2 separate regions of the Homo sapiens genome follow, and region 1 is linked to region 2. The links come from fine-mapping of genetic effects on gene expression. A gene starts in region 2. The other region holds a variant in brackets. All regions are shown on one strand. Distances are from middle to middle. Region 1 overlaps RAMP1 (receptor activity modifying protein 1). Region 2 holds the start of UBE2F (ubiquitin conjugating enzyme E2 F (putative)).

Region 1 (9,340 bases), 60 kb before region 2:
GTGACCAGAGTAAGGGGGATTTTTGCTCTTACCCTCCCTGCCCCGGTGGTGTCTGCAGTCTGGTTGTTGAGACCAACAGTGGGTGAATAATCACATGAGTTCATGGACAGCCACAAAGTAACACCCATCTATGAAGGAAAACCCCACTTTGCTGGGGAAGCCAAATATGATTGAAGCATCCAGAAAAGGCCTCTTTGAGGACGTGACATTTAAGCGAAGGGCGAGCATAGGGTGGCCTTGTGAAGATGAGGCTAAGAGCTTTCCAGTTAAAAGGAACAGCATGTGCAAAGGTCCTGAGGCAGAACACTGGCCACTGTGGCTAGAATGTGGCCAGCAGGAGGGAGGGGACCCAGTTGAGTGACCCACACAGAAGCTTCTGAATCTGGGACAGGTGTAATGGTGAGCACTGAAGGCGTGAAGCAGGGGTGGGAAGGTGTGGACGGTGGGCTTGGGCAGCGGCCAGGGTGTGGGATGTGGCCTGGAGAGCCCGTGGTAGCTAAGCCCAGCATGCAGAGTGGAGGGCGGTGGAGGGGTTTGATGGCTGCCCCTGACTAAACTGGGGGAGGCAGAAGAAGGGGTAGATAGATGCCAAGCCCCCACATACTCACTACAGAAAAGTGGAAGCTGGTATGTAAGTTGTAATAACCCATCCACCAGGACGAGTCACTTCTGCCCCATCCTGGGCACAGTGATGGGGCCTCAGGAGGGGAGGGCACCCTTGAGGGAAAGGGGAGCCATGATAACTCAGGGGATAGGCATGGCATGGGGGCCCTGAGTCACATGTGTTCACAGCCAGAAGTGAACAGCCCAGGCTTCAGGTGGAGGAGGGAGAATGGGGAACTCTCAGGTGCAGCCCAAGGCCGAGAGAGAAGGAGCACTTCGCGGGGGATGCCTCTCCTCCGGGGGCTGGTAAGGGCCCGGGGTCTTCAGTGAGTGAGGATGCCCCACTGCCACCCGGAGCAAGGCTGGAGTGAGGATGAGGTGGGGGCCTGGAGCAAGGGCGAGGTGGAAGAGGGAGGGGTAAGGAGGGATCGGGAGGAGGAGGAGGGGCTGGGAGGAGGAGGGAGGGATCAGGGGGTGGAGGAGGGGCTGGGAGGAGGAGGGAGAGGCCAGGAGGAGAGAGGGATCAGGAGGAAGAGGAGGGGCCAGAAGGACAGGGAGATGGAGGAGGGAACAGGAGGACCAGGAGGACGCAGAGGTCTCCGCAGAGGGGGTGGGGGGAACACAGCGAGGAGGAAAGTGGGGTCCTGCCCCCAGGGCCCACCCCGCACCCCCACTCACCCTTCCACAGAGCCCCTTCCTGCCTCAGAGTTGGGTCCCGCGGGGCCCCCAGTTCCACGCAGGAGGCCACTGAGACTGGAGAGGCCCAACGCCCCGTCCCCGCTCCCTGTCTGCCCTGCACGCCTCCCCCATGAGCCGCTGTCACCAGAGGGTCCCAGCCCTGCCTGCACATCAGAGCCCTCTGGTGGGAAGACCCAGGCTGCCCCAGACACCAGGCACGGTGGCTGCAGATGCAGTGACGCCAACATCTAGTTTCCTGTGAGCCTTCCTGCTAAAATGAGCTGTTAAATATAATTATAAAAAGTATGTATGCTCAAGGTAGAAAACCCAAAAAAGTTGAGAGAAAAGTCCTTCGTGTTATTACCATTCTGGTGGGGATCACTCCTGTGACATTCTGCTGTGTCCCCCTCCCATGTGGACCATTTTACCCCAATCCAGGCTGTTTATGGCACCTGGTCTAACCTGCTGCTGCTTTTCAAAACTTTATTTATTTATTTAGCAGAGAGACTGGGTCTCACTAGGTTGCCCAGGCTGGTCTTGAACTCCTGGCCTCAAGCGATCCTCCTGCCTCAGCCTCCCAAAGTGCTAGGATCACAGGCATGAGAGCTGTTCTTCTGCCCAGCTTTAGAACATAAATGTTTTTCCACATCTTAAAATTTTCTTCCTAAATATAATTTTAACAGCTACATAATGGAGCCACTCATAAACAATTTCTGTGACCGCTGTCCTGTTGTTTGCTGTTTTTCATAATTATAAATCTGCAGTGGACACCTTCTTACATCACTGTTATCTATATTTCACATTATTAATTTAGGATAATTCCCAGTAATGCAATTACGGGGTCAAGAGGCATCCGTGAGTTTGAGATTATTGATACATATTGCCAAATTGTGTTTCAGAAAAATTGTACCAGTTTATCTTCCCTGAGGATTGCTATGAGTGCCTGCCTCAGTATCCTACACCTTCACTAGCATTCAGCATTATTTTCTTTTTTTTTGAGACAGGGTCTTATTCTGTTGCCCAGGCTGGAGTGCAGTGGCAGGAACATAGCTCACTGCAGCCTCAATCTCCCACCTCCCTGGGCTCATGTGATCCTCTGACCTAAGCCTCCCAACTAGCTGGGACTACAGGTGCATCCCAGCACTGGCAAATGTTTGTTGTTGTTGTTTCTTTAAGACAGAGTCTCGCTCTGTCACCCAGGCTGGAGTGCAGTGGTGCGATCTCCGCTCGCTGCAACCTCCACCTCCCAGGTCCACGCCATTCTCCTGCCTTAGCCTCCCGAGTAGCTGGGACTACAGGCACCCGCCACCACGCCCGGCTAATTTTTTGTATTTTTGGTAGAGTTGGGGTTTCACTGTGTTAGCCATTTTGTATTTTTTTGTAGAGACAAGGTCTCACTATGTTTCCCAGGCTGCTCTCAAACTCCTAGGCTCAAGCAATCCTCCGGCCTAGGCCTCCCCCAGCGTTGGGTTTACACGTGTGAGCCACCACGCCCAGCCTAGCATTCTCCTTTTTAAGAGGAGTGCCATCTGGATGTTTGGTCTTTCATTTCACATGCTTAGTAGTCATTTGTATTTCTAGAAGAAATATTGGGCCGGGCTCAGTGGCTCACGCCTGTAATCCCAGCACTTTGGGAGTCTGAGGCGGGCGGATCACGAGGTCGGGAGATCAAGACCATCCTGGCTAACACGGTGAAACCCCGTCTCTACTAAAAATACAAAAAAAAAAAATAGCCAGGGCGTGGTGGCGGGCACCTGTAGTCCCAGCTACTCGGGAGGCTGAGGCAGGAGAATGGCATGAACCCAGGAAGTGGGGCTTGCAGTGAGCTGAGATCATGCCACTGGACTCCATCCTGGGCAACAGAGCAAGACTCTGTCTCAAAAATAGAATAAAAATCAAAATAAATAAATAAATGAAAGTTAGCCAGGTGTGGTGGTGCACGCCTGTAATCCCAGCTATTCTGGAGGGTGAGGCAAGAGGATCACCTGAGCCCGGGAGGCAGAGGTTGCAGTGAGCCAAGATCGTGCCACTGCACTCCAGCCCGAGCAACAGAGCAAAACGCTGTCTAAAATAATAAATAAATTTTAAAAAGCGAATATAAAGCCAAAAGTGCTTTCCCCTCAGATTTTCTGACAATTTAGACACACATTGCCTGGTCACCTTTTGCTTAAGTATAAACTCAAAAAGGACAAGAAATGTATACGTCATGAGCCAGTCAAGTGAGGACCTGTATCTTTATCTTAATAGGAGACTAAGACTTGAACAAGCGAATGAGGTCTCCAGGATCACTCTGGGTAAGAGGTGGAGCTGGGATTTGAACCCAGGTCTATGGGTGACAGGGCCCAGGCTCAGATATTTCATATTAGGGCCAGCCGGGGGTAGCTGGGGGACAACTGCAACCCAGGGTGTCCCCAGAGTAGATGACTCACCTGTGAGCATCAGTGATCACACTTTCTTACCAGCAAGTAACCATGAACAGTGGTGTCGGGCCTTGACTTGGGACCCAGATATGCTGGAAACTCCCACCATAGGATTCAGGAACATTCCAAGCAAAGTTTGCTTCGAGCCCCAGAATAGAAGGTCCTAGCCAAAAAAGGATAATTACTCAGTGACACGAGAACTGAAACTTTAGGGAGTTAAAGCCAGGGTGTATTTTTCATGACTATTTTGGGTCCTTCAGTCCGTTCTGTGTTCTTTTGGGCAGAAGAATGTCTGTACTCTGAGGGGAATTCTTTTATCACATCCTCACTGACGGAGCTCACAAC[A/G]TTTATTGAAAGTTTCAGCTGTCACTTCTGTATAAATAAACAGGATGAAGTGGGCAGCCGACTGCACATTAGAGATATTTTTAGACGTGGGTGGCACTGCAATCCAGAAGGCTGACATATCAAGGAGAGAGTGCCTGATCCCAGAATAGCCCACCCACACACGGCCCTATCTGCCTCAGCGTGGCCTCGGCGTGGGTTCTGTGGTGGCGTGGCTTCCTGCATCCGCTCCTTCCTGTTCTGTTTGGCCAGTGCAGAGATGGCAATAGCTCCTCCTAAAAATGCCACAGCTCCGCTCCTCAGAGGACAGGGGTCAGTGTTCAGGATCATGTGTCACTGGATCTGCAGAACACCAAAAACTAAACTGCCTGCGGGTTTGGTGGGTCTGAGATATGGGAGAGGATCATCATTCAAAGCAGGCTTCATTGGTCAGATGCAGTGGCTCACGCCTGTAATCCCAGCACTTTGGGAAGCCAAGGAGGGTAGATCACCTGAGGTCAGGAGTTCGAGACCAGCCTGGCCAACATAGTGAAACCCCATCTCTACTAAAAATACAAAAATTAGCCAGGCATGGTGGACCATGTCTGTAGTCCCAGCTACTTAGGAGGCTGAGGCAGGAGAATCGCTTGAACCTGGGAAGCGGAGGTTGCAGTGAGCTGAGATTGTACCACTGCACTCCAGCCTGGGCAACAGAGCAAGACTCTGTCTCAAAAAAAAAAAAAAAAAAAAGGCAGCATTCTCACTGTTTAGCCCTGTAGTTGAGAAGGCTGGACTTGGTTTTCAGCAACAATAACACGTCTAACATTTACCATGGACCGGCCACATAACGTGCACTCATTCGTTTTTCCCCCACGATGAGACTCAAACCGTCACGACTTCATGTGGCTTTTTCCACTTCTGTTTTCTTCTTGAAACATGAGTCCTTGTTCACCTGGAGAGACCACACACCCCAATGCCTACAGGCACGGCACACTCTCTGCTGCCTCTCCCTCCTCATGCCTCATCTACTAGGCCTCTTGGATGGGCTAAGGGAGGCCCTGCACACTCAGGGCAGTGACCTAGAGGGCAGCCAGGAAGGAAAAACAGTGACCGTACGATAGGGGCGGGGGTAGAGGGGTGCTGGGATGCCGGAGAGGCCCCTACTTTTTCTGTATAGCCTCTTAAAGCCCCCAGGGGTCTCCTCACATTTAATTTATGGCCTCTGATCCATTTACTCACTTTCTAGATTAAATATAAGGAAAAGTACCCTTCTATTGTCTTCATTTTCACTGTTTTTGGAGCCCTTCATCTATTTATGTGGATCTCAAACTCTTTCTTATCACTGAAGAACTTTCTTTGACATTTCTTGTAGCACAGGTCTGCTGGCAATGAATTCTCTCAGCTGCTTTTTTCTCAAAAGGTTCTTATATCAACCTCTTTTTTTTTTTTTTTTTTTTTTTTAAAGACAGTCTTGCTCTGTCACCCAGGCTGGAGTGCAATGGCGTGATCTCAACTCACTGCAACCTCCGCCTCCCAGGTTCAAGTAATTCTCCTGCCTCAGCCTCCCGAGTAGCTGGGATTACAGGCATCTGCCACCATGCCCAGCTAATTTTTGTATTTTTAGTAGAGATGAGGTTTCACCATGTTAGCCAGGCTGGTCTCGAACTCCTGACCTCAAGTGATCCGCCTGCCTTGGCCTCCCAAAGTGCTGGAATCACAGGTGTGAGCCAATGTGCCCAGCCTCAACCTCATTTTCAAAAGGTATTTTTTTCTAGGTATAGAATTCCAGGCTGACAAATGTGTTTCCCCTCCCCGCAACCTCTAATACTTTCAAGATGTTGCCCATTGTCTTCCCACATGACAAGCCTCTGATAAGAAATTAAGAAATCTGCTGTAACTCACTGTTCTTCTGTATGTCTTTTTTCCTCTGACCTCAAGATTTTTTCCTTTTTCTTTGGTGCTCAGCAGTTGGAGTTTGATGTGTCTATTTGGTTGTTTGCTGTTGTAGCTGCTTTGTTTTCTGTCCTGCTTGAGGTTCTCCAAGCTTCTTGGATCTGCGATTTTATGTCTTTCATTATTTTTTTAAAAGCCTGAGCCATTATCTCTTCAAATATTTCTTCTGCTCCATTCCCTCTCCTCTTTCTGGGACTCTCACATTATGAGTTGAGGTTGATGTCATTTATAGGATTGTCATGTTACACAGTTCTTGGATGCTCTGGTTTTCCCTCACTTTTTTTTCTCTTTGTGTTCCAGTTTGGTTAATTTCTACTGACATCTTCAATTTCTCTCTTTCCTCAGTTTTCGTGTCTGCTGATGGGCCCATTGAAGGAATTCTCTCTGATGCCATATCTTTTTATTTCTAGCAACTGTCTTTGACTTTGAGTTTTCACTTCTCTGCTTAAATTCTCCATCTGTTCATGCATATTGTCTGCCATTTCCACTAGACCCGTTGTCATACTAGCCATTCTAACATAACTGTCTGATAGTTACAACATCTAGGTCGTCTCTGAGTCTAACTCCATTCATTGTTTTGCCTCTTGACAATGGGTTGGTTGTTTTTTGTTGCTTCTGAACAAAAAATATATAATTTTTATTGAATACTGAACATTCATGTATAGAACAGAGGTGACTACGGTCAATAGTATTTACATATGGAAATGGGTAATCCTCTTCTGTCAGACCGTTAGTGTGGGATTTGAGTCAATCTTGTTAGGAATTGAGCTGGGTTTGGGATTTGTCATTGTTATGGTTATCTTCAATGTACCATAGGCCTCAAGTACCTCTAGCAATGAGCTGTCATTGCCTTGTGCCCAGGGTTGGGACTAGGGCACTGGAGGAGATTCCTCAGTGTGGTGCCCCACCCTCTGCTTTCAGCTTTCTCTTGCCTGCCTGTGCTGCAGCATGGATCTTACCCCACTTTCTCTCGGCAGTAGACAGCTGCTGCTTGTTATTCTACCAAGGTTATGTTCAAGGCTTGGGGTGGGTTCTCTGTGTACTGGTCCAGCCTCAGTTTAGACAGGCCCTTCCCTGTGCCCTTCACCCCAGCATTCCTACCCCTCTTCCCTGTGGCAAACTCTGTCGGGGTCTTGGGTGTGACTGTCCTGTCCCTTCCCCAGTGAGAAGAGACCTCTGGTGGTGGTGGTGGTGGTGGTGGTGGTGTTTTTGAGACAGAGTCTTGCTCTGTCACCCAGGCTAGAGTGCAGTGGCATGATCTCGGCATGATCTCGGCTCACTGCAACCTCCACCTCCTGGGTTCAAGCGATTCTCTTGCCTCAGACTCCCTCGTAGCTGGGATTACAGGTGCCCGCCACTGTGCCTGGCTAATTTTTGTATTTTTAGTAGAGATAGGGTTTCACCATCTTGGCCAGGCTGGTCTTGAACTCCTGACCTTGTGATCCACCCGCCTCAGCCTCCCAAAGTGCTGGGATTACAGGTGTTAAGCCACCACACCCAGCCAAGGCCTCTGTTTTCTATGGTGCAGGATCGTAGGCCAGGATGGTTTCCTGGTGCCCTTCCAAGGAAAAAGAGTTCCTTCCTATCCTTCCCCTAGCCATGGTGTGTCTTTGTCTGTGCCCTGGGGGTGACAGGCTGTGCTGTTCCTCCCTCAGCAGCCTAAGGCATCTGCTTCCCAGGAGAGAAGAGTCTGGGATGGTGGAAAGGCCTTTGAGCCTGTTCCTACCCTGGCTGCAGCCCTGGTGGCACAACTTCCACAGCAAGCCTGGCATCACACTGGCATCATGGATACGGGGGTGAAGGGGACTCAGCACCTGCCCTAGAGGCACTCAGGCTGCCCCCATGGGGCAAGGGCTCATTCAAGGCTCTCTGGCTTACGGATGCCCACTGTGGCCTCAACCCCCAGTGAGTGCAACTTGGACCCAGACAAGGAAGTGTCCAAGCTGTGGCCAGATCTGGCCACCGAGGGCGAGGGACAGTGGTGAGGTGTGAGACCCGTGCAGTCACACCCTGGCCCTCTCACCTGGCAGCCCTCCAGCCTTCCCAAACCTCCATTTCCCTGTCTACAAAACAATGGGTAACAGCGGTCCCCGAGCATGAGCGAGCTCACACACAGGCCTTGCCGAGCCTGTGCCTGTCATGCAGGGGTACCCAGTGGACCTTCATGATTGCAGCAGTTATCATGGAATGGTGACAACAGTGAATGCCACCAAGACCCCTTCAGGCCATCAGTCCCCAAGAACAGGCTCTGAGCCCCATGAAACGCCAGAGGGGCCTTTCTTCCTGAGTCTCAGGGCTGTTCTGTGAAGCAGGAGGTCACAGGGGGTTGGAGGGAATGCAGGGCTGGAGGCAGAAGGAGCCGGCGTGGTCTGGGCTCTACCCACGGCCAGTGATGTCTCAGAGCCTCAGTTTCCTCTGCTGCAAGAGGCACTTGACACCCACGTCCTGGGTTGGAAGATGACACAGAAAAGCACCGATGGCTGGGTCCACTTGGGTTTTGTCCACTTCATTTCAAAGGGCATCCTGTGGCCTACAAACCCACATCTATGGAGAAAGTTGTTCAGAAACAGATGGCGTTTGCTCTCCCCAGAGAGCCCTGGGGAGCAGAGTCCTGAGAGCACCTAAGGGGCAGGGTGGGAATGAGCTCACCCGCTGTGGCTTCGAGGGTTAAAATTCCTGGAGCAGAGGGGACTCCGCGATGGCTTCTCTCCAAGCCAAGCCCAAGGAACACCCCAATGGCACACCCTCTGCCCGTGCCGCCCAGGCCCCTGGCTCGGCACGGCCACCTCCACTCCCTTCCTTCTAGCCTGGTGGCAGCCATACCTGTGGGTAAAGGCACCTGCAGCCGTGGCAGGATAGGGTCAGAGGCCCTGTGGTGAAGTCCATATGGGGTCACACGTACCCGGTCACACACACAGAATAACACAGTCACACGTGCACACACAGGTTCACACACACAGAATAACACAGTTACACCCACACACAGGGACACACACAGAATAACAGTTACACCCACACACAGGGACACACACAGAATAACACAGTCACACACCCACAGACAATAACAAGTTACGCTCACACACAGGGACACACATACAGAGAATAACACAGTCACACACACACACAATCACACACAGAGAATAACACAGTCACACACACACACAGAGTAACACAGTGTTGCACAGTCACACATAGAATGTCACACACTCAGAGAATAACAGTCACACACAGAGAATAACAGTCACACCCACACACAGTCACACACAGAATAACACAATTACATATACATAGTCACACACACAGTAACACACAGAATAACAGTCACACACACAGAATAACAGTTACACAGTCACACAGAATAACAC
Region 2 (9,340 bases):
TCTCTGCCCCAGCACACAGAGGCCGTGTGAGCACAGCCAGATGGCGGCTGCTTACAAGCAAGAGGAGGCCTCAGAACGAACCCTACCTTGCCAGACCTTGATCTTGAACTACCCAGCCTCCAGACTGTGAGAAAATAAACATCTGTTGTGTAAGCCACCCAGTCTGTGGTATTTTATGGCAGCCTAAGCAGAATAAGATGCTGGCAGAGGCCACTTTTCCTGCCTGGGAGACCCTTCCCTCACCCCACAGGTTCCCAGGTCCCTGCACCAGCCCAGGCCAGAGTGCTGCCAGCCCTGGACCAGGCTGAAAATATAGATAGCCCAGGCCATCTCCCCTTCCACATCCTAGCTGGAAGCCTCTGGGGTTGAACTTACAGGGGTGAGGGAGGAAGGGATGCGAGGACATTGTCTCCCCCTGCCCTTCCTTGGGCAACAACACTCCTCTGTGAGGCTCACAGTTGAACTTCCACCCCACTCCCACACACACACACAGTGGTTCTGTGACTGAAGCAGAGCCAGTCCCTCCCAGAGAACATGAAAGTTACAGTTAGGGGCACCAGCCCCCTTTATGTCCTGGATTGTGGAGATGTCTGAGCCCAGGCCCTAGCTCCCTGGAGGCACCTGGTAGGGCAAGGCCAGCCCACAGAGGCCAGGACTCAGGTGACAGGCCTGCAGGCAATACACTCATGGCACCATCTCCAGCTTCCCAGAGCTTACCTCAAGTTCTTTGTATCAGCTGCCTCAAGGTGTGCTGGCTGAGGGCAAATCTCAGAGTCAGACTGCCTGGCTTTAAATCCTAGCTCTGCCATTGTTGGAAATGGGAGTTCGGTGTGGCAAAATCAACACTGAGACAAAGGATCTCTCAGCAAGGCTAGTTTAGTTTCTGCAGAAAGGGTGCCGCTCGCTAGCAGTCTTGCCATGAGAGCACACCTGAACAAAGGAGATGGGGACATTTATAATCTTTGTAACCTGATGCAATCGTCCTATGGCTGTGTCCCATTTCCATTGGCCAGAATGGGACCTCACATTCTAAGCTTGACCTGATTGGCTAACAGCTTGAAACTTTTCTAAATAGGTAAAGAGGAAAGAGGACAAAGGAAAGAGGAAGCTAGTCATGAGAGGGTCAGGAGGGTTTCCAAATAAGCTATGGCAGGCACTATGGTCCCGGGCTGCCTTAACCCTGTCCAGGCATGCCAGGTCAAGTCAGAGCAGCTGCACTGGAACATATATAGATATGCATAAAGCAAAGAAATGACAAGCTCTTTATGGTTTTAAGAAACTTTGAAGAACTTCTCTATTCCTCACAGCCATGTTGGACATGTAAACCAAAAATAAAATTCTAAGCCCCCTAATCGACAGAATGGACCCCTCCTCTTGAACAAGGGGATTCTGAAGAAACCTAAAAAATTAGTTCAGGCCATGATGGGAAGGAGGGGTCAGACATGCTGCATTATACCCTCCTCACTTTGGCATTCAAGCACAGCTCACCAGCATTAACATTAAAACAGAGATCATAAGACTGACAAAACAGGCTGTTTGTACTAATAAGATGCCAAATTCCAACTGACTCTAGTATAGCATCACATGACGGTGGGCCCTGAAAGAAAGAGAAATATTTCACCCCAAAATATATTTCTTTGAGTTTTTTTTTTTTTTTTTTTGTGACAGAGTCTTGCTCTGTCACCCAGGCTGGATTGCAATGGAGCAATCTTGGTTCACTGCAACCTCAGCCTCCCGGGTTCAAGTGATTCTCCTGCCTCAGCCTACTGAGTAGCTGAGATTACAGGCGCCTGCCACCACACCTGGCTAATTTTTGTATTTTAGTAGAGATGGGGTTTCACCATGTTGGTGAGGCTGGTCTCGAACTCCTGACCTCGTGATCCCAAAGTGCTGAGATTACAGGCATGAGCCACCGTGCCCAGCCTTCTTTGACATATTTTGAAATGGCCTTGCAAAGCTGTCTCTTGTGGGGAAAATCTACGTTCTGTAGATTTCCCTTTCCAGATCTTTTTCTGATCCAGGAGAGATTAACCAAGAGTCTGGCATCTTTTTAGGTCTGATAAGAAATACTTACCATCTATTTCTCTGAAGCCTGCTACCAGGAGGCTTCATCTACATAAGAACATTTGTCTATACAACACCTTATCTTATCCCAGACACTCCTTTCTATTCATTCCAGTTCGTTAGACAATAACTATTTCAACCAAATTGCCAATCAGAAAATCTTTGAATCTACCTATGATCCAGAAGCTCCTGCCTACCCTTCCCTGCTTCCAGTTATCCTGCCTTTCCAGACTGAACTAATGTACATGTATTGATTGGTGTCTGCCTGTAACTTCTGTCCCCCTGTTACCAAAAAGGGGTCCTGATCCAGACCCCAAGAGAGGGTTATTGGATCTCAAACAAGAAAGAATTCAAGAGGAATCCATTAGAGTAAAGTGAAGCAAGTATATTAGAGAAGTAAGGAAATAAAAGAATGGCTACTACGTAGGCAGAGCAGCCCCAAGGGCTGCTGGTTGGCCACTTTTATGGTCATTTCCTGATTATATGCTAAACAAGGGGTTGATTATTCGTGAGTTTTCCAGGAAAAGGCTGGGCAATTCCTGGAACTGAGGGGTCCTCCCATTTTTAGATCACATAGGATAACTTGCTGTCTTTGCCATGACATTTGTAAACTGTCATGGCACTGGTGAGAGTGTCTTTTAGCAACAGATACATTATAACTAGTGCGTAATGAACAGTGAGGATGAACAGAGAACACTTTCGTCGCTATCTTGGTTTTGGCCGGCTTCTTAATGGCATCCTTTTAACGGCAAGCTCTTTGTGACCTGTACCTGTGCCAACCTTCTATGTCATCCTGTGACTTAGAATGCCTAACCTCCTGGGAATGTAGCCCAGTAGGTCTTAGCCTCAAGATGGAGTTGCTCTGGTTCAAACGCCTCTGACACCCCTAAAATTTATAAAAATCGAGCTGTAATCCAACCACCTTGGCACATGTTCTCAGGACCTCTTGAGGCTGTGACTCAGGCCTTCGTCACTCATATTTGGCTCTGAATAAAATCTCTTCAAATATTTTACAGTTTGACCTTTTTTGCCAACAGACTACTTAACTTCTGTGTCAGTTTCCTCATCTATAAAATGGGGATAATACCTGTTTCATGGGGTTATTGTTTGGATTAATTGAGTTAATAAACTAGGAAGTCCTAAATAAGTCTTAGTGAAAGAATTAGGCAGCCTCATGAAATGGAGCTAGAAATGACTTCATTCATCCACAGCGGTGGAATTTGGGCCTACGTGGGCCAATGTGTGGTGCAATCCATTCTGCAGACAGTGACGCTTATGAGTAAGACAAGTGCTCACGCCATTCCGGCTGCACCTTCACACACTGCAATCTTCAAGCCCTTATCTCCTCTCACCAGGACTCATGCCGCCAGCGCATGCAATCTCTATCCAGCAGATGTGTTTTAATCACCTGCATGTTCCAGGATGGGAAAGGGGGTGGCAGGAGGTGACGCTGGAGGAAGAAGGAAGAGGAGGGCTGAGGAGCTGAGCTTAGTCAGGGAAACAGGCCATGACAATAAGGAAGAGGGAAGTGCAGGGCTCCAAGGAAGACACAGAGGGCACCTGCACTGCCCCACCCCACCCCCAGGCTTTGAGGCCTATCAGAAGTTGGTGTCTTAGCTTAGGAAAACTTGAGAGTTAGCCGGGCAAAAAAGGGAGAGACATGGTCCCAAACACAAGAAATAACACAAGTTGTGTTCTTTCTTTTTTCTTTTTTTTCTGGAAACAGTCTTGCTGTGTCACCCAGACTGGAGTGCAGTGTCAGCTCACTGCAACCTCCGCCTCCTGGGTTCAAGCAATTCTCCTGCCTCAGCGTTCCAAATAGCTGGGATTACAAGGGCGCACCACCACGCCCGGCTTTTTTGTATTTTTAGTAGAGATGGGGTTTTGCCATGTTGGCCAGGCTGGTCTTGAACTCCTGACCTCAGGTGATCTGTCTGCCTCGGCCTCCCAAAGTGCTGGGATTACAGGCCTGAGCCACTGCGCCCGGCTGAGTTGTGTTCTTGACCAGTTTTCCTGACTCCATTCCCACCGACTCACTTAGAGCCAAAGCCTTTATTATTATTATGGGGACAGGGTCTGCCCTGTCACCCAAGCTGGAGTGCAGTGGTGCGATCACGGCTCACTGCAGCCTCAACCTCCTGGGCTCAGGTGATCCTCCCATCCCAGCCTCCTGAGTAGCTGGGACTACAGGCGCGCGCCACCACGCGGCTAATTTTTTTTTTCTTTTTTTGTAGCGATGGGGTCTTGCCACCATCAGGAGGCTGGTCTTAAACTCTTGGGCTCATGGGATCCTCCCACTTTGGCCTCCCAAAGTGCTAGGATTACAGGCGTGAGCCACCGGGCCCGCCAGCCTCCTTTAGGAAGAAAACCTGATAGTCACTCCACTGTTAGAAACCTCTCAGTGGGGTTTTTCGAAATGAAAGTCTAACTCCTTGTCTCTTTCTGACCGTTTCCATGCTGAACCTCATCTTTCTAATGGCCCACTCCTCCAGGGGCCTGCCTGACGCCCAGGACGGCCCCTCGTCAATCACACAGGACGCTAATGGGCGCGGGATGAATCTGGGCGCCCAAAAGAGGACAAGTTGAAATGGATTTTTAAGGTACTTTAAACACATTTAAGAGAGAAAAGAAGGAATAAAAGGGACATGACAAGAACAGTGGGGCCTGTGGGCGCAGCACACGGTTTGGGGTTGGTCGTGGCTTGCGTGTCTGACCGCCCGGTCTCCCTCACCGCCTGCACTGCAGGCTGCGGGGGCCTGTCCAGTCCTTTGCACTCCAGGTGCGGCGCTGGACAGCGGGAGCTCCAGCCACGGAGGCCGCTCCTTCAGGGAAGGATAGCCCGGGCTCCTCCGTGCCCCTAAACCCTGCAGACCACGAAGTGAACCCGTGTTGGAACCAGGTGCAAAACCCCCAGCCCTCCGGCGCTCGGGCTCCAGAGCCAACTCGGAATCCCCGCCCCTAACGCTACTCGCCAATCAGCGGCGGTTGCGAAATCCGTGCCCGCCCCCTGGCCGCGCCCTCTGCCAATGAGCGAGGTCCGAGAGGCCCGTCGCCCAGCCCAGTCCCGATCGGCGCACGCCGCTGTTCGCGTGTCTGGTTCCAAATAAAGTTTTTCGCGACTTTGAATTTTTTTTTTAAAGCGCCCGCTGCTGTCTCGGCTGCCGCGGGCGAGAGCGGCCGAGTCCCCGCCCCGCCACTTCCGGTCCCGCCGCCGGGAGCCGGTGCGGCTGTGAGGGGCCGCGTCTCGCAGCAGCCGCCCGGACCGGGCATGGTGTTGGGCGCCGGGCCCGCCTCGCCTGTCTCGGGGAGCCCAGGTGAGGAGCGACCGTGCGGCTCTGCGGCGGGGCGAGGTGCGGCCGCCGGTGCACGGGCTGGCCTGCGGGCCGGGCGGAGGGCGCGGGCGGTGGCGGGGCCGCCTCGGGCCCGCCGGGTTCCTCACGCCGGGGGCCTGGCGGGCGCGGGCACCCGGACGCGAGGCCGAGCGGCGTGAATGGGAAGGGGCCGCGGGCCGCGGGCCGCGAGCCGGGGGTCGGAGGCGGCGTCGGCGGCCGGGGCGCTGGCCTCGCCCGGCAGTGAGTGACCGCGGCGGCGGCGGCGGGGGACGGCCCGCGCCGAGCACCTGGTGTGAACCAGGCCCTGGGCCGAGCGTGGCACAGACCTGGCCGCGCTCACGCCCCACTCGCGGGATCGGCTGCCTGCCTTGTACGGAGGAAGCGGGGCGTCCAGCGCCTGGCCAAGGTCACCGGCCCGACGTGGCCGCAGAAACCGGGACTGGACTCCCGATCGGGGCAGGAGTCGCGCTAGGCCGTGAGGAGCGGGGGAGGTGAGGGGAGTGACAACTCGCGCCCGGTCCTCGTACCTGCAGCGGGAAGAGTAAGTATGGACGCTTACCTACAACTGGGGGCGGCCAGGCTAGTTTGGAAAATTTTTACCACAGCAAAGGAGACGAGGAAGGAAGGGCATCTTGGAACAATTAGTGCAGCAGAGTCTTGGTTCCAGACCTAGTTCTGCTGGTGTGTCATCTTGGGTGTGGCCTTCCCCTCCCTGGGCTCAGTTTCCTCATCTGTCACAGGAGAGAATTGGGTCCCCCCACTCTGCATTCCCGACCGCCTGGAAGTGGGGGCAGGATGGGTTGGAATAGCCAGAGAAAGCTTCTTGGAGGAGGAGATGTTGGGATGTAGGTAGGAATCTTCCCCTTAAGGAAGGGGTAGGATTCGTTTGTGAAGGGAAGGAGGGCATTCTAGACCTGGGTATCAGACTGAATAGAAGCTTCTGGAAATGAACAGGGTGTTGTGAAGGAACAAAGAGGAAACTGGCCTGCCTGGTGCAGAGGAATCCTGGCTGAGGAGTGAGATGAAGGCAAGGGGGAGCATAGAGGTGGGAGAGAGAGAGAGATTGAGAGACAGAATCACACCAAGCTTAGTGCTGTGGGGCTTGAGGACCCCCCACCTGGACATACCTGCCTTTCAGGTAGTAGGCAGTGCAGGAAGGGGCAGGTTTACTGCTGAACGTAAAAGGGGCTGGGCTCCAAAGATGGTCGGTCAACCAGCGTACTCCTGTGCCGAGCAGGAGGTTCCTGGGCACTGGCATTCTGTAGAAGAGTGGGATGTGGACTTTGTTGTGCCCTGATCGGGGCCCCTTTGGCTGGGGAAGTTGAGTGTCCCCTAGTGACCCGCAGTCCCATCCTTTATGCTTGGATTGAGACGTCTCCATTCGGAAGGAATTGTAAATAAGTAGCCCCCTCACCTTGAGCTGACTGGCCCCTGGTGTCCCTGCACAAGTGACATGGCCTGGTTTTGCCATTGCTTGCAGGGATGCTGAGTAAATATCACTTGATGGCACTAGTAAGTTGCACACCAGATGCTCTTCTCCGGGCTGTCTGAAAGCAGGTCCCACCCAGAGGAGGAACCTAACTGGGCCAATTACAACTTGTGGAATTTAGAAACTGAGAATGCTGTTCAGAACAGCTGATCTGTTACCGAAATGCTGCCTTAGAGCGTAATTTGCAGGAAAGAGGAAGTTTTGTTTTAAACCAGATCTTCAAGAGTTGAAGCATATTGAAGAAGGAAAAGAATTCTGAAGCAACTGCAGGTATTCAGCTAGCCTCTTGACAGTTTGAAGACTTACTTTTTGATAGAATCCTTTGGTTTAAATTTAATTTTACAGCTATGGCAACATTCCCAAATTAGGCCTTGGGTTTATTCTTAAAGTGGCGTGTGAAAATGATACACACGATAGAAAAATAGATGGTCACTATATTAGATTTCTTAGAATGTTAGAGAAGTACATTTTTTATTACTTTCTATGGAAAACAAAGCACCAGTGTTACATTCTTTTATATCTTGCAAGTCACAGACTTGAAGATAGTAAACCAGCAATCTGACTCTTCAGTGGAATTGAATGTTGGAGCGTCTTCTGCCCACAGAGAAGACTTCATCGTGGCGTGATTGGGGGTATAAAAGCGTTAAGCGTAGCCTGCGGGCTGTAGTGGTGCAGAAGAGTTTCTTGGTGGTTGGCCTTTGAGTGCATGAAGGATCTCTCTCCCCAGGCTTCCCTGAGCCTCCTTCAGGGAGCTGCATGTGGCCCTGGTGCTTGCTGTTCTGTGGGACTCTTCATTCTGACTTTCCTAGGTTACTGCCTGCTGAACTCATGTTCAAGCAGTTGTGCTTTTATTTTTCACTCTTTGCTTCATTTGCATTCCCAAGGTCAGCCAGAGACCTGGTAGTCCTTGTGTAGGGCATCTGGTGCGTCCAGCTGACCCCCAGGTGATGGATGGATGCACGTCTTGGTCCATTATTGGGTGACTCTGACGATGTGGCAGGACTGATGTGCTCGAGTCTGCACACGGGGCAGCAGACTTGGCTGGGAAGGGAGACACTGTTCCATGACAAGGAATCCTTGTGAGGGATTTTTGACAAGATCATTCCAGGTAGGGGCTGAAGCAGGAGAGCTTGGCTCTAGATGGTGCTGCTGTCTGTGGTAGCTAAAGCCCCTACAGGTGTTTGTGACTATTTGCCTGTGAAGTAACTTCATCAGCTGAACCCAGCTGCTTTGCTCTGGGCGAAGCTGTGAAGATGTGCTCTTATGGAGGGCCACCTGAGGAGATGGCACAGTAGCGTAACAATGAAGAAACTAATGTTGGTTTATTTTCACATTTTTGTCAACTTTATTGAGGCGTAATTGAAATACACTAAATTGCCCATATTTAAATTGTGTAATTGATCAGTCTGAAACCATGACCACACTCGAGATAAAAACATTTCCTGCCCGGCATGGTGGCTCACGTCTGTAGTCCCAGCACTTTGGGAGGCTGAGGCAGGTGGATTGCTTCCGCTCAGGAATTCAAGACCAGCCCGGGTAACATGGTGAAACCCTGTCTCTACAAAAAAAATTAAAATTAGCTGGACATGATGGTGCCTGCCTGTAGTCCTAGCTGCTTTAGGAGGTGGAGGGTGCTGAGGTGGGAGGATCTCTTGAACCTGGGAGTTTGAGCCTGCACTGAGCTCAAGTCACGCCACTGCACTCCAGCCTGGGCTACAGAGCAAGACCTGTCTCAAAAAACAAACAAAAAACATTTTTGTCATCCACAAGAGGGAAACTAGTGTGTCTGTGGTGACAGCTTCTAGCAGCTGAGTGGCTTTGGGCAGCCTACCTTCTGGGCCTCTGTTGTCCTGGGGTCCACATGTTAAAATGGAATGGGAGTGAGAGAAGTCCATTCCAACTTTGCAATTCTGAGAGCTTATGACCGTGAAAGTGCAGAGCTGTCTTTGAAACCTTTAGACCAGTGCTTCTTAAGGGGTTTAGGGTATGTGTATGTCCGTGTCCTCTAGTGGAAAAGACTGTGCAGTTCAGAAGATCGTATTCTATGTATTGTTTTCGTTTTGAAAAAATTCTTTAAATTTTTTTATCTTTTGAGATGCGGTTTCACTCTTGTTGCCCAGGCTGGAGTGCAATGGCACAATCACTGCAACCTCCACCTCCCGGGTTCAACCTATTCTTCTGCCTCAGCCTCCTGAGTAGCTGGGATTTACAGGCACCCGCCACCATGCCGAGCTAATTTTTTTTGGTATTTTTAGTGGAGATGGGGTTTTGCCATGTTGGGCAGGCTGGTCTAGAACTCCTGACCTCAGGTGACCCACCTGCCTCGGCCTACCGAAGTGCTGGGATTATAGGCATGAGCCACCATGCCTGGCCTGTACTGTTTTCATGGTACAAACAATAGAAAATAAAATCTGACAGCATTTAGGGGATATGCAGAAGATGGTGTGAGAAACTG

Evidence for each region.
Region 1: its variant is fine-mapped to the expression of UBE2F in whole blood (INTERVAL, PIP 0.96).

The regions. Positions count from the first base shown.
Region 1 is chr2:237,901,259-237,910,598 of GRCh38, forward strand. All of the region lies in intron 2 of RAMP1 (receptor activity modifying protein 1), which reads left to right. Among named protein-coding and RNA genes, the nearest start is that of RAMP1, 46 kb to the left of the region's middle. The variant A/G (reference allele first, on the strand shown) is at 4,047.
Region 2 is chr2:237,961,755-237,971,094 of GRCh38, forward strand. UBE2F (ubiquitin conjugating enzyme E2 F (putative)) reads left to right here and starts at 5,260. Exons shown (of 10, transcript NM_080678.3): 1 at 5,260-5,378. UBE2F-SCLY (UBE2F-SCLY readthrough (NMD candidate)) reads left to right here and starts at 5,191. Exons shown (of 19, transcript NR_037904.1): 1 at 5,191-5,378. LOC124908001 (a long non-coding RNA gene) reads left to right here. Exons shown (of 2, transcript XR_007088146.1): 2 at 13-157. RefSeq lists cis regulatory regions at 2,394-2,797, 3,124-3,787 and a silencer at 5,304-5,483.